2 separate regions of the Homo sapiens genome follow, and region 2 is linked to region 1. A link means that fine-mapping ties the variant in region 1 to the expression of a gene that starts in the linked region. Tissue or cell type: whole blood. Region 1 holds a variant in brackets; the other region holds the start of a gene. All regions are shown on one strand. Distances are from middle to middle.

The links. PIP is the estimated chance that this variant, and not a neighbour inherited with it, causes the effect.
Region 2: DOCK10 starts here. The variant in region 1 is fine-mapped to the expression of DOCK10 in whole blood (TOPMed, PIP 0.94).

Annotation. Positions count from the first base shown.
Region 1 is chr2:224,826,729-224,834,728 of GRCh38, forward strand. It overlaps DOCK10 (dedicator of cytokinesis 10), which reads right to left. Exons shown (of 56, transcript NM_014689.3): 26 at 7,422-7,535; 27 at 3,813-3,884. Among named protein-coding and RNA genes, the nearest start is that of CCDC195, 110 kb to the left of the region's middle. The variant C/T (reference allele first, on the strand shown) is at 4,956.
Region 2 is chr2:225,038,741-225,046,873 of GRCh38, forward strand. It overlaps DOCK10 (dedicator of cytokinesis 10), which reads right to left and starts at 3,728. Exons shown (of 56, transcript NM_014689.3): 1 at 3,512-3,728. The coding sequence starts at 3,634. RefSeq lists an enhancer at 2,435-2,774 and silencers at 3,325-3,564, 3,755-4,124.

The DNA of each region.
Region 1 (8,000 bases):
ATATATATAATTATCTATCTATCTATCTATCTATCTATCTATCTATCTATCTATCTATCTATCATCTATCAATCATCTATATGAAATTAGCTGGGCTTGGTGGCCATGCCTGTAGTCCCAGCTACTAGGGATGCTGAGGTGAGAGAATCACCTAAGTTGGGGAAGTTGAGGCTGCAGTGAGCTATGATTGTGCCACTGCACTCCAGCCTGGGCAACAGGAGTGAGACCGTGTATCAAGGGGAAAAAAAAATGGGCCATGCGTGGTGGCTCATGCCTGTAATTCCAGCACTTTGGGAGGCTGAGGTGGGTGGATCACCTAAGGTCAGGAGTTGGAGACCAGTCTGGCCAACATGGTGAAACCCCGTCTCTACTAAAAATGCAAAAATTAGCTGGGTGTGGTGGCATGCACCTGTAATCCAAGCTGCTTGGGAGGCTGAGGCAGGAGAACCACTTCAACCCAGGAGGTGGAGCTTGCAGTGAGCCGAGATCGTGCCACTGCACTCCAGTGTGGGCGACAGAGCGAAACTCCGTCTCAAAAAAAAAAAAAAAAAGTAAAGAAAAAAGATGATATCAGGTCTTTTCCCACTGTGATGATTAGAGATGGTTAGAGTGGAAGGTGCAGGGCTCCTGAAAGAAAACTAGGGTGTGAGGGTTACCACTGAAAGGGGTCACGGAAAGCAAACCTCAATCGGGGAAGATAAACTGCTGGACACAATCATGCTGGCTATTATCAGTTCATTTATTCTTAGGCTGCTCACAGGTGTGTTTTGTGACCTGTCTATACAAGCAGATGCATACTGGTAGGAACTAGAAGAGAATTTTAGTCCAATCCACTCTTCTTACAGATGAGAAAACAGGCACTGAGATGTTAAGCGTCGTTTTCGTCAGCTAACAAGTTAGTGACAGAGCAGGAATTGCAACAGTGAGGTTTCCTGACCCCAGTAGAGCTTAACAACAGAGAGATACGAACCATTTTTACCTTTGTGTTAGATTTTCTCTCCCTCCCAGGTAGGAGGCTCTCATCTCCAGAAGTGGAGAGCAGAAATAGCAGAAAAGCAAAAATAGGATTTGCGAGTTAAGAGTTATGGAACTCCACAGATGATTAAAGGTCCAGCAAGCCATTTCTGTCATACTAAGATCAAGGCCATGGTTACATAGACCTGGGGCCTAGAAGCATGGATGAGGACCTCTGGATGGATGACTCTGAGGAAGTGGCTCTGCACACTTCCCTGAAGCCTTAGTGCTAGCAGAAGTTTAATTCCTCCCTATTAAGTGTCAGCACTCCTCCCATGCAAGATGATATTGCAAAGGCCTCTCCCTGCTAGAAATCAGGCAAACCCTTGAGGAGTTGTCCCGCCTCTCCTTCTGGTGATCAGGGCAATACCTGGAGGTTAAATCCTAGCTTAACCCAGCTGGGGGCTTGCTGGGCCTAATAAAGCAGGAAAGAGAATATACCCAAAGAGGCTATAAAAATTAGCTATCATGTACCACCAGGAGGTAGGGCAGAACCTCTGCAATTGTACATTGAGGATGTGGGCCAGAAAGTAAGGGCAGGTAACTTAGAATGCATTGACATGGGTGTGCTTTTTCAGAACATGGGATTAAATAAGGACTCACGGGATGAGCAACTCACTGCTAGGGTTGCTCTGAGAATCTAGAGATGGCCTACTTTAAGCAAAGTCGAAATGTCTGGTTGTCCTGGCAGAGGATAGAGGAAAAAATAAAGAGGTGGAGGGAGGTGGATATACAGGAATGGACATTAATTGAGACTGGAAGATCCACCAGTGTATCAAGTTCCCCAGGCAGGCCCAGAAGACAGCATGCACCATGGCCACTAAGAAGGTGCTGGGGACCAATATCATTAAGAAGGTCAGGGGTGTTTCCCATCTGTTGGCAGGAGGAGCAGTCACAGTCTTGGCTCATGAGCAGCCATGGGGATCAGGGATCACCAAAACAACAGAGGCCATGTGCTGTGCTTAATCTCCAGGAGCCAGGGGGCTGTGAGTATCATGACAAATGACAAGACTGGTGGGGAAGCCAAGAGGGACCGACTCTCAGGGAGTTGTAGAGCTGGTTAATGATGACTGGAACTCCTAGGGACAAAACAGAGAGCAACCAACAATGGTGGTACATCATATTAACAAAGAAGGCAAGAATGGGCAACTGGAAGATGGGGATGTTCATTCCAATGAATAGTCATGGTTCCTTTGTCTGTTCCTGGACCTGAGTCACAATTCAGATCTGGTACACATTGACTGAAGAGGTGATGGGGTCCCTAAAGGAAAGCCCCCACTGCAACAATGCAGTAGATACATACTGTAATGAGTCTATCAATTCTTCTCCAAAGGGCCCTATAGCCATTTACTCAGGCTACTGTACACTGAGAAGAAGGGCATATAGTTCAAGGACTGTTGCACACAGAATCTGAGTTGACATTGATATCCAGAAATGAAAAGCATCACCATGTCTGCCCTGATAGAGTGGGGACTTACAGGGATTAAAGGTGGAGTCCTGACTAAAGTTCTGTTAACAGTAGATCCACTGGGTTCAAAGATCCCCCCAATAGTCATGTAACTGGTCCCAAATGTATAATTTGTATTAATAAAACTGGCATTTGGAGTAAGCTTGCACGGGTGCTTGGTCTGTGGAGGTATCCTAGTGGGGGAGGCCAGGTGGGAGCTTCTGACACTGCTTCTTCCCCACCAAAAGAGTAAATCAAAATAATATAACTGTACACCACCAACCCCACCTCATGCAGCATTGTTATGATTTACCCTCCACGTGGGGCAGGGGCAATGCCAGAGGTCTTCCCTTGGCCTTACCCACAATGGGGGCTCAGAGAAATGTGTGTGGAACTCAGGTGATCTACCTGGCTGCTTCTTGGTCTTCCTCACTCCATTGTAACTGTGAATGGCCATAGGTACCAACTCTGGTGTGAGTAGAGTATGATGACCAGAGGCTGAGACCACTCTAGAATGAGGGTTTGGGTCATATCACCAGGTGAGTCACCAAGACCTTCGGAGCTGCTAGTTAGAGTGAGAGGGATCTAGAATGGAGAGTTGGGATGGGAGATGATGAGTAATACATAGGCTCCTGAAAAGCCATGGAAGGGGCTGTAATTAATTCCATCAGGGTCCCTCTTCTAAGCTTCCTTTCAGGAGGGGAGGCCCATGGGAACTGCAGGGAAGCAGATTCATGAACTTGTACAATATGTCATGCAAACTTGGACTGTGGCAGCCAGGAATGCACATCGCTCAAATGTTCCTTCAAGACAGAATCTAGTGGGAAGAATATAAAGAGTTGCTGTATCTTGCAATATGCTCCAGCATTCATGCCAAGGCTACCCTCCCCCCAGGCTGCTCCCAGTCAACGACTTAGCTTGCAAAGGTCCTGGAGGCCGATGGCCTTCCCAGTGCAGGGTTCCTCTAATGACAACTCTTTGCTCTCAGACTTCCCATCAGCCCAGCTAAAACCTTGTCACTGTGAGACTCTTCCTAGCCAATCCTCCTTCCTTCCCCCTTTTCATTTACAGGTATCAGACTTTCCCATTTCTTTTTCCTGTTCCTTTTATCCTTTATAGTTATTTCCCTCCAATACATCTTTTGCACTTCCAATATTGTCTTGGCATCTGCTTCTGAAGGGCCTGTGCCGGTTGGTGTACACAATCATTTCTTCTACTTATAAAGTAATTATTGTAAACTGCTAAGGTTTATAAAGCAAATAAAAATGGAACTCATGACAGCATAATCATTAGTGTAATTGTTGGATAATATTGTAAAAATATTATAATATTATATTACTTATGTTCTTACCTGGATTTTATTTGTGTCAATCAAGTGCTGTGCCATCGATTTTAGGATAATTGCAAAGAAGAACCAGGAATGCTGTTGGGAAAAAAAAGGCAACGAGACATTTATTATCCTATGGCAAAATAATGATAATTTTTTCTTTGCAATATGTAATACTATAACATTGTTATGTTAAAATGTATTCTTTGAAACTAAATGAATTAGAGCAGTAAAATATTCTCTATTATAGTGGGATGATTTTTATCTCAATCCTCTCAAAAAATGTTTAAACTAAAACAAGTTACAAGTTTATTTGGCATGACTGACTAAGCAGTTGTTTTACAAAATATTTATTCAAGGGATGTTCTAGTTGTTTCACCTAGTTAAACAAAACTAAACAAACTTTTATTTATTTATTTATTTATTTATTTATTTTTTGAGACAGTCTCACTCTGTTGCCAGGCTGGAGTGCAGTGGTGCAATCACAGCTCACTGCAGTCTTGAACTCTCCGGCTCAGGTGATTCTCCCACCTCAGTCTCCCGGACAGCTGCGACTACAGATGTGGTCACCATGCCCAGCTAACTTTTTGTGTTTTTTCGTAGAGACAGGGTTTTACCATGGTGCCCAGGCTGGTCTTGAACTCCTGGGCTTAGGTGATCCTCCCGCCTCAGCCTCCCAAAGTCCTGGGATTACAGTTGAGAGCCACCAAGCCTGACCTAAACAAACTTTTTATTGTACCAAGCTCACCCCTCAAATTTCAAAGGTTAGAGGTAAGGGTGAAAATGGAAGGTCATATGTCTAGATATCTAGAAGTTGGAAGTCAAGCTGAAAATGTGTTAAATAAAATATGTTTGATCCTCCTACCTCGAGAAACAAAACTTCATAACACCTTGGAATGCTGCCCCAGGGTGTGAGGTCCTGGGGGGCACAGGGCCTGGCCTGCCCCTTTTCTTCTCGCCCAAGGCTCCGTCCTGCCCCTTGAGGGGCCTGGTGCGCATGTGTTAAATACTTTAAAAAACAAAGCTTCAAAACTTATGTCACCTAAATAACTCAATCTCAAAATTATCTGCTCATGCCAGATTTTGTCATGAAATAAATGCAGGCCCAATGATAAGAGCAGTACACACCTGTTCCTACTTAGGGCTTTGCAGAGGTAGGGCCTTGTA[C/T]GCCTGAGCTCTTTTGGAAACTGTCCAGCCTGCACATCTGAGTGCTGTCCACAACCTGGCCCTCCTCCCTGCCGCAAATAGCTCCTTAATGGGGTCTAGGGTTGCACTCAGGCATCAAGACCTGTCCTCTGGAGGTCCTGGAGGGCTTGGGACAGAGATTGAAGCAGGCCTGGAAATCCACCTATAGGACCTTGAGCAAGAGGGTCTTGGGGTTCCTTACAGGTCTAGAAGGGGAGGTAGGGGCTCCTGGTGGGCTTGTTCTCTTAGCTCCTCTTAAACCTTGGCCTGTGAGGACAGGTGCAGTATGAGAAGAACAAAGCTCATCCCAGGATGGGCACCCTTCTTTCTTGGGCCTAAGGGTGACACTTATCTCAGCTACAAAAAGTCATATTGTATATGTATAGTTTCAAGAACGCACCCCTTGCATCCTCTCTGCTTCCTACTCCTTCCACCACAGATAACAGTTTTAAATTTTGTGCTAATCATTCCTTTGCTTTACTTCACAATTTTGCTACGAATACTTATACAATGAAGGGATATTTAGTTCATCTGGCCACTGAACTTCATAAGAATGGAACTATCCTCTATGTATTCTTCTGAGATTGCCTTTTTCATTCAACAAATTCTGTTCTGTGGTTCGTTTATGTTGAAGCACGTAGCTGGGGGGATCACATATGGTCACCACATGACATATATAATCACCATGTACTTATCTGCTCTACTGTCAATGGGCATTTGGATTATATCCTGTTTTAAGTCATACAAACAATGCTGCGATAAACTTTTGACAAGACAGTCCTAATTCCAGAAGACTGACTCAGATAAAAAAGAGAAGGGATTGATATTCTACAAAGGCAGCTATGGCTTAATGAAGTGGTCACTTCTTAGTAAGAAGAAATGGAAATGGCTACCAATACTATTCTAGCACTCCAATAGCATTCTAATGGCTATTAGAAGTGAAACATGTTGTTAGGAATATGAATGAATCCCAGGCACACTGCTGCAATCCTCTTTCCCTAATCTTGTCCAAAATATTTTGAGCCATCGTGTCAAGTGTTCCAACATTTGTCTCTTAATTCAACAGACTCCTACCCCTCTCCATCCCTTAGCACTCTGGCCTGCCTCCACTATTTTCCTTGAAACCACCAGCACTAATGAAATTGAGCTTTTGCCTGTTCACGTCTGATGACAGATGAAGCCTCAACTCCTCTACTGCCCTCTCCACATATTCCCTTATATATCTGCACATTCCACTGCTTCCAATCTCCTGAAACCCACCCACCCCACCTTCCAGAGCACATGGTCCATCGTTAGCACAATCTCTTGAAGATGCAATTCTTCTCCGAGCATTCCCTTCACTCCATATTTTAACTGAGCAGTGACTCTCCCCAGAGGATCCTGCTTCTCTGATAGCCCCTCAAGTGGTTGTGGTCTCCATTTTTATCCCACTGTAGTCGATTCTCAACACAGCAATCAGAGGGATCCTTTTAAACCAAGGTCAGCTTGGTTTAAAACATTACTCCTCTGTGCAAAACCCTCCAACGACACAACTCCCAGTTCTGCTCTGAGTGGGAACGCCTGGCCTATGCTAACTCCCAAGCCTCCAGTGGCTTCCATGACTTCATCGTCCATCTTTTTTTTTTCTTTCTGCTCACTTGGCTCCAGCCACAGTGTCCTCCCTGTCTCCTGCCACAGTGTCCTCCCTGTCTCCTGCAGACACACCAGCCATGCTGCTGCCTGATGACTTCACACAGGTCTTTCCCTCTGAGCATCCCCATGGCCAGCACCCTCTTCGCCTTCAAATTTTTTTTTTTTTTGCTCAAGAATTACCTCCTCCATCAGATATCCTGACCATTCTATTTAAAACTTCAAATCTCCCCTGCACCTTCAGCACTCACAATGCCCAATTCTTACCTGTTCTACAATTTTTCTAATGCATCTTCTTTTCTAACATACAATATCTATCTATGTATCTCTCTCTCTCTCTCTCTCTGGTCTTGTTGCCCAGGCTGGAGTGCAATGGCATGATCTCGGCTCACTGCAACCTCTGCCTCCCGGGTTCAAGCGATTCCCCTGCCTCTGCCTCCTGAGTAGCTGGGATTACAGGCATCTGTCACCACTCCTGGCTAATTTTGTTTTTGTATTTTTAGTAGAGATGGGGTTTCACCATGTTGGCCAGGCTGGTCTTGAACTCCTGACTTCAGGTGATCTGCCCATCTCAGCCTCCTAAAATGCTGGGATTACAGAGGTGAGCCACTGCACCTGGCCCACTCTACTTTTTTCTATGTTGTCTCGATATAGATCTCTTTTGCTTAGTATCTTTATATGCTAAGTTTCAATATGAACCTTATGCTGGAAACTGCAAGAGAAAAAGTCTATGAAAATCCATGACTCCTATCATTTTCCAGGAGTAAGCGTGACCCATGCCTAGTACTCACAGTTAAAGGACCATCTTTAAATTCTTACCTTTAGGACATGCTTTACTGTTGTTGAGTCATTTGATTTCAAAAGACCAGTCACATTTTTAGCCAGTTCCTCATGTACAGTCCTCTCCTTGCATGCCCTGGTCTTGAACACGAACTGAAGAAAATCCAAAAAGTGAATAAAGTTAAATACTTTGAAAAATGAAGCTTCAAAAACTATGTCATGTGAATAACTTATGTCTCTAAATTATCTGCTCATGCCAGATTTTGCCATGAGATAAATGCAGGCCCAATGATAAGAGCAGTACACACCTGTTCCTATTTAGGGCTTTGCAGAAGTAGGGCCTTGCTCACCTAAGCTCTCCTTGAAACTCTTTGTAGAAATCAAGAGAAAGAGCCAGAGAGCCATTTAGCACGTTCAAGGAAACATGGAGGGCTTTGACCCACCTACTTAGGACACATTCCCCTTCTCCTTCCTCCACTGGTAACAGGTGGCATGGTAGCAATTCTTCATCCTGAAAGGGTAGAGCACCCACTCAAATAGCCAAGTGGGGAAGCCAGTGCCTTCCAGATGCCAGTACGTGAGCTCCCCACAAGCCCAGGGTCTATGATCCCATGCTTA
Region 2 (8,133 bases), 210 kb after region 1:
AAGCTCCAGTCTAGGAAATAGATGAACGGCTTTGGGCTAAAACTGACCAAATGATTATTTGATCTCTAGTAAATGCTTCCTTTCCATCATCTGACTCTATGTAGATCTCATCCTTCTGGTTATCTGAAGCCTTCCATTGCACTAACCCACCTAAAACATTCCATAAATAAAACTCCATTTCTCTCAAAGTGACAGATCTGATGGGGTGTTTGCAAAAAGTTTACCTATACTTTTTTTAAAAAGTCTTTTCTTTTGAAATGCTCTCAAATACAATATATATGCAGAAAAGTGCACAAATCCTAAATGTATATCTTAATGAATTATAGAAAGCTATCTAAATGAACTAATTCATGCTAGGGTACAGATACACTTCATTCATTTTAAAAGATGAGCTTCTTATCAAAAAGGAATTTCTAATTAGTGGCATTACAACTTTGAAGCCAACATGGTATGTATATTCAACCAATGTAATAAAACACTCCAGTTCTGATATGAGACAAATGTTTCTAATCATTTTCGGGCTGAAATTCTACCCTAGAGAAGCTTGCTTTATGAAACAATCAGGAATGAGATTTCAGGAAATTATGAGAACTTGACATGATCCTTTGAATTGATCTTCGAATGAGTTGTCTTTCATTTATTTTCTATGGGGAATTTTAGGATAATGAAGGAGCAAATATTTCTCCTTTTGAAATGTATGTTTTTGTTCATTACTGTTCTTGGGAGGGGTGAAGAATAAGGTGGTTCGTGTCTAGGAGTCTGCAAGTACATAAGCCTACTACATACAGTGCTTTGGGTAAAAACTGACATCAAATTTGCTTTGGCATACACCTGTATTGTCCTCAACAACTGCCTTAAAATTTGGCTTTCCCAGTCATTACCCTCACTCAGCATCTCCTTGATCTCTCCTCTCCATATTCAAACACATTTTGAAGGCTTCCTGTCTTCTCTCTCTCTCTCTCTCTCTCTCTCTGTATACACACCCCATTCTCAGGGAAGAAAACTATCTTGTTAACCTGACAACCTTACCTAAACTTATTGGAGAGAGCAGAATTCAAACCCTATGGCAATCTTTTGGCAATGTCCTGGAGGATTTGTGTCCCCAAGACAGGGATTTCAGAAAGGGGAATATACAAATCTAGCAGTAAGATACTTTTTCTCAGCAGGAGTTTCTAGTCTCTTTCAAATACCTTGCAATAGAGGATGGCTTGCTCCAATACACACCCGCGGTTCTATGAGTCTGTACTGAAGTCGGATATCCATAATATTTTCCCCAACATCCTATCATTTTTCTCCCTTGACAACCATGTTTTGAGAACTTGAAGCAACAGATATGAAGAGTCTTAAGGGATTGCATCAATGTACGCTAAGATTAGTCTCTACCACATAGTCCAATGACACGGTTTTAGGTTCAGAAGGGATGCTCTACACCCACAGAATCCCACCGAGTTCAGGTGCCAGCTCAGAGAACTCATCACCTTCCTGTTTCCCTTCAAGAGTTAACTGATGGGATAGTATGCAAAGCACATGCGTTCTTGCTGCCAAAATAGCAGCCAAAACTGCCTGCCTAGATGTGTAAGATCCCATGAAATGTCTTGGCAAAAGCTAGTTTAGGAGTGTTGGCCAAGGTGCTGAAGCGAAGCAAGGGGAGTCAGGACCACCTTTGCCACTGAATCTCCCCTCCCCCACCTCTTTTTAAAGACAGCGAGCTTATTCATTTTGACAAGATACCCTAGGATTTCAAATCTGACATAATTTTGGAGAAAGCAGTGCGTGTGTGTGTGTGTGTGTGTGTGTGTGTGTGTGGTGTAGAAGGGTATCTGGGATACATAATCTTTATAGAAATTCTAGTGCCACAAAAATTCTAGGAGGATCTACATTTAAAAAAACACACAACAGTTTAAGCTGTTTATTCCAATTGAACGCTGTGTGTTTCCATCAGATCCTCAGTGAGATTCAGTCCAATGAGTCAATTGCAAAATAAAGTTTTTGTCAAGGGAATGGCAGAAAATGACAAAACCACAATTCTGAATGATCATTCAAAAGTAAAAAGTACTTTCTACTACTGTGTGGAGATTTTCTTATCTCTACTTTTACTCGAATTGAATCTTTTCTTCTAATGTTCTTTTGAACAGTTTGTCTTTGGTGTCCTGAAAATGTGCACGCTGATAGCAGTACCACATGCTGTCCCTGGCACAGAGTGAGCTAACAGTTGAACCACCTCTGGGTAACTGCGGACTGCAGCTAGTGTAAGTGCAAGAGAAGGCACCCTGGCCACCAATTCGTTTCACACTCCAATCACCCCCGCCCGCTCTACACCCCCTGGGCACCCGATGCCTCTTCCCTCTGCCAGGCAATTTGCTTCCGTTCTGTTCAACTTTCCGACCTCTGGCTTTAGAGAATAGTCCTGGCTGTGGGAACTGGCTCTGGGAAGCTTTTGGCGCCCTCCTCATTGGTGACTGGCAAGAGTAACACTTTCACACTCTTAAAAAGAGCCGTTTAGTTCCTAATGATATTTTCTGGCAAAAAAGAAAATGAAACACACAACCCGGATTCCGGTCCACCAAACGCAGGCCAAGAGCGCGGCTGCTGAGCCCCGGTCTTGCTGTGAGGCTGTTGTTCCCACTCGCTTCCCGTTTCCACTAGAGTTGATTTGTCTCTTGCCACCTCTCCCCGGCAGTGTGGACCTACTGCAACGCAGGAACATCTGGGTTGGTATGGATAGGATCCTAGCATCAGATGCTGGCTGCTGCCCCAGGGACTTCCCGCGGAAATCACCCAGCACTTAGAAGCCGTTTCAATAAGGAAGTAACCAGTAAAGCATTGCTGGTGGGAGAACCCCGCGAAACATCTTAGAAAAATATCAGAAACCGCTGGAGACCTAATGACCCACGTCTCCTCCAGCCTGTGTTCCTCAGCCCTTTCTGGAGGAGTATTAAGTGGTTTGTGGGTTTTTACCCTGCGGTGGGAGGGCTGTTCCAAGTACATCTATTTCTGCGATAGTTAACGTCGGGGGGCCCCAGCTCTAACCAGGGCGAGGACCACGGACTGCATCCCTCTCTCTCAGCGCACTGGTCTGTTTACTGGAGGGTGAGAGGGACGCGCAGACCTCCGGACTCAGGGGTTCTGTTCTGTAGATCCCCCCACCCCACCCGGGGTCTCTGGCACTCGTATCACTTAGCACCAGTGTGACTGGCGGTGCATTCCGGCCCCCTCGCGCCCCATTAAAGCCCCTGCACATCCTCTCCCACGCTGCGCTTCTGCTACCCACGCAGCTGCTCCTCTGAGCGTCCCGCGTGCACAAACGCGCCCCCGGTCCTTACGCGTCGGTGGCGCTGCCTCGCTGAGGTGGCGCCGGGGGAGCCCGCAGAGGCGGCGGGGGAGGGAGTGCGGAGGAGAGGACCCGTGAGCTGCGGGGACCTGGGCCCGCCGAGCTTTTGGGGAAGCTGGGCTCCGTTCCCCCCGGGCGCCTGGGGCGCGCGGGAAGGCGCGGAGGACGCGCCGCACTCACCCGCTGCTGCTGCCGGCTGCTGACTGCCACCGCGGCGGCGGACGCGGCGCTGTGCCGGAGCTCGGCCGCCTGCCCAGGTCTCAACAGGCTCCGGGTGAACCTGCGGGTCCGCTCACCGGCCATCGCCGGTCACGCCAATCGCGCCGCGGGCCCGGGGCGCGCCTCCCGCCGGTCTTCCCCGCGCCAACCTTCTCTATCCACCCGCCGTTCAGGAAGCGGAACTCGGAGCCTTCCCCCCCCTCTTCCTCGCTCAACTCGCAAGAGGCGGGTTTTTCTCTCTTGCACCCCCACTCTTCCCACCCCCTTCCCTCCTCTGAAGCTTCTCGAAGACTTTCCAAACTCTGCGCTCCCCCGGGCGCGCGCGGCCAACTCGGCTGGCGGCCGGGCCCTGCAGCGGCGCATCTGGAGCGGGCGTCGCGGGACGCGTGTGGGGCGGCTCCTGCCCGCGCCGCCCACACGGGCTCAGCTGGCCGGCCGGGGCTGTCCACGCCGCCCGGGGGAACTGCAGGCTGCGGGGGAGGGCGGGGGGCGGCCGCCGAGGGGCTCCGGGCGGGGCCTGTCCAAGGCCGTCGCCTGTCCAAGGCCGTCAGCCTCATTTGGAGGTTGCTGGGAGAGTTGGAGCCCTGGATGCATTTGCCGTTTAGACTTCTATTTTCTGGGTCCGGCTAGTGGGTGGGGGCCAAGCTCGGTTCGCCCTTCCACCCTCGGGAAGGGGTCAGAGGCTTATTAAAGATCTGGTGGCTGGGATCCCAGCAGCATCGCCCAAGCCAGCGTTTGGAAGGCTCCCTTGCCAGAAGTCCATGTTCAGGGCCTTGGAATAAGCTTCCCCATTCATTCACTCCTTCAATGAGTATTTATTAAGCGCCTACTATATGCCAGCTCACACTGTTCTGGAAACTGAGGATACGGAGAGGAACTTAGCAACTACACTTTAAGGCTGTGTAGAGCTGATAGGTTTTTTCGGGGTAGGGGTGGGAGACAGCAAGTAACCAAGCGAACAAATAAACAAATACAGAGAAATCAAGGAGACAGTTTAAGCTACTAACACGAACTCAAAACCAATAAATCAGCGTTCTGGGGGTAAGAGACTTTGGGTGGCATTAGGATGAGTAGGCAAGAACCAACTGGCAGGGTTACTATGTAGGGTGGTCAGGTCGGGGGTGGATTTCACAGTTATGCTGTCTCTGCTCTTCTCTTGCCCATACCCATCTAGCCTGCACTTTGCCTCTAGATAGGTATCTGATGAAAGCCTTCTAAGAAGTCTCTTCCTGGGTCATACCCAGGGTGGTTCTGCAATTCAGTGTTGGACTGGATGGGGGGCAGAGAAGTTCTGGCCCCTGGATACTGGTCTGGAGAGATCTGGGACAGCCTTTCCAAGTGGTCTGGTTTTTTCTTAACAGCTTTTTATGGATCCATGACCCTGCCACTTTCTAAAGCCAATGATAGATAGTTATAACACAAGGTCACATTTGGGTATAAAGAATTCTTAAGCAATTGATAAATGCACTTTAGTCAGCTCTTTGTTAGCCAGGATTCAATTAGCCAGAGATGCTGTTTGGGGATCATTTCAGCACATTCTAGAAATCATAACAGGCGTAAGAGGGTAAGAGGCTCTGGCAGATTTGGGAAGTGCCATTTGAAACATCATCTAGTTCCAAGACAGCCTGCATAACAAATAACTGTACCTGTATTGTATGCTTTCATATTGGTACTCAGTGTGGGAGCAACACCACCTTTCAGGGTAAGCAAAGTAGGTGGTTGCCTCTGTGTTGGTACATGAAGATCTCTGTAGGAACAGCTCCCTCCAACCGTACCCTTTCCCAGGTGTACCCAGACTTGATGTCTCTGAATGCATATTCCCCTGAGAGAACCGATTAAGCACATTTGAATTAACTTGAGCTTCCCAAGAAGAGGTACCTAATCTTTGTCTCTGGTTTCAAAACACTGCCTGGCACACGTAGGCACTCAATAAATATCAGCTTATGGATGACTTTACAAAGGGCTCAGATGGGCTAGTGCAGTCAGAGAGCTGGGTGTGCCTGACACAGAGAAAGTCAGAGAGGAGAAGAGAAAGGTGTGCTGAAAGGGAAGGCTATAGTAATCGATAATACATCAGAATGTGCCCTGCACAAGGCAACTCGCTGATCCAAAACACTGAGTAGCACACACAACCCAATCTCCAACAATATCGAGTAACAGAAAGTCACTTACAATTTGTTAATCGTACAATTAATACACCTAATTGTACTTTTTCCAGCTTCAGGAGGTCACCCAGAGCACTGGTGTGAGAGGGTTTAACGAACAAATGCCTGTTTGCCCAATCCATACCCTGTATGATGTTAATTCCGTGGGTCACACCGAGTAGGAAGGCAGGTTTAAGTGTTGATAGCATACCTCTCACACCCAGGGCATGTCAATAATGATACTTCAGAGACTCTCCTCCGCCCTTATGATCATGTAGGTTTTAGTTAAGCTTCCTTCGGGCACCAAGGAGAGAGAGCTGAGTGTCGACCCTTGCCCCTGCCCTTGTAGCATAAATACACTTATTTTTTGCTACAGAAATGTAACTTCAGGTCTGCTGATTTGGGACCTTGACTCTGCTGGCCACCCATCTCTCAGATCCCTGGAGAAACTCGGCTCAGATGCTTGGTAAACGCAAATCTGTGCACATATCATGAAGTATGTTAAGTTTCTTGGAACAGCTAGTTAATAAGAGAATCTTCAAGGGCTTGTAATATTGTAGAATAGTGGTTAAAATACATGCTCTGAAGTCCAATTACCTTTGTTCAAATCCCAACTCCGTAAGCCTCAGTTTCTTACCTACGCAATCAAGATAGTAGTTGTGTGGCTGGGCTGCTGAGAGAGTTACTTAAATTAGTGTAAATTTCTTCAAAAGTGACTAGCACATGGACTTCAATAACTGTTATTATCCCTACACTTGCAGATAACTCAGGAATTAAACAAGCTTCCATGTCTTTTCATATATTTGATTCTCATATGAACCCTGTTATTATTCCTACACTTGCAGATAACTCAGGAATTAAACAAACTTCCATGTCTTTTCATATATTTGATTCTCATATGAACCTTTGCGAGAAGAAGGATGGATGGGTATTATCTTGGAGCCAAGGCTGGGGATTTAATGAGCATTCTGGAGACAATGTCTTAACCCAAATCAATGACTATGGAATTTCATGAACAAGAATAACAATAACAATGTAATCCTTATAGTATTAACCCACTATTGTGTAACAATATGTAACTATAACATAATGTGCTACAGTTTGGATAATAGTTTCACATATATTATTTCACTTGAATTTTAATATATTATAAAATGGGGTTGTTCAGCCCATCTATCCCATGTCTCGCTGTCTAAAATTGTAGATGGATCATTAAAAGAGCTCCCCAAATGCATGGAACAGACATTTTAGAAACCAGTGGTTGCAAATTTTGCTAAATGTTCTCAAATCAAGATTGTACTAATACATAGAATGCAGAGGCTGCAATCAAGTTTTATCAGTGTTTGAATTTGCCAATTCATTTGAGTTGTCACGAGACAAGCCATTCACTGAGGAAGAAATAACCCCACTCAACAGACACTTATGGAATATCAACTATGGACAGGATCTCACACTATGCTAGGAGGGCACAGAGCTGAGCAAAATGTTTCTGTCTCCAAAAAGCTCAATTTCATACAGAGGAACTGACTTAAAAAACATTACTGGTGCTCATGGGTGAGTGGGTAGGGGGTGAGAGTAAGATTTTGGAGATGGAGCGTCTATGGACCCATGTTAACATTTTATACTTCATATTTTTATGACTTTTTAAATAAGATTGAAAAAATTGGTCTCAATAACATGGAATTTTCTAGCCTTCTCTTTCTCTTCCCCTCTTTACTTACCTCCTTTTCTCTCTTCTTCTTTCTTCCTTTCTCTCTTTGTCCTTTTCTTTCCTTCCCTCACTGCTTCCTCCCTTCCTTCCCTTCTTCCTTCTTTAAAATTTGATACTCTTCTTATTCATACTAAAGCATCACTTACTTTCATAAGATGTAGTAAGCACTGATTACTTGACCTGGTACAATTCAAAGCTTTATAGAATTAAGAAACCACAACTGTCAATAGCCCTCTCCTGTCATCCTTCTACATGACTGTGTCCATGTCTTATCAGCAAGGAAAGACTTCAGAAATTTTTTCATAGCAGTAATAAGTATAAATGTGAAAACTGTACTATATTTTCCAAAATACCTACAGACATAAGAGTGTGTAAATTTAGTTATTAGTCTAGGAGTGTGACTCTTGGACGAATAACTAAATTTGCACACTAAATGACTAAATTAGATCTTGATACCCAGAGATTGTAGGAGGTGGGGCAAATACTCCTTGCATCCATTCCATGGCATTGAGCCACCCTTCCTAAGTGATACCAAGCCCAGTGTACCCTGGGTGTCAGCCTGGGCATCACCATGTCCCAGTGCTTAACTATATCAAGTTTGTCTAGTGTTGCACCATTTACAAAGCACACTCATTATTTCATTTGATTCTCAATCATTCATTCTAAAATGCACATGGGACATGTGATATTGCCCCCACCGTACATAAGGGAAAGCTGGGAGAGAATTT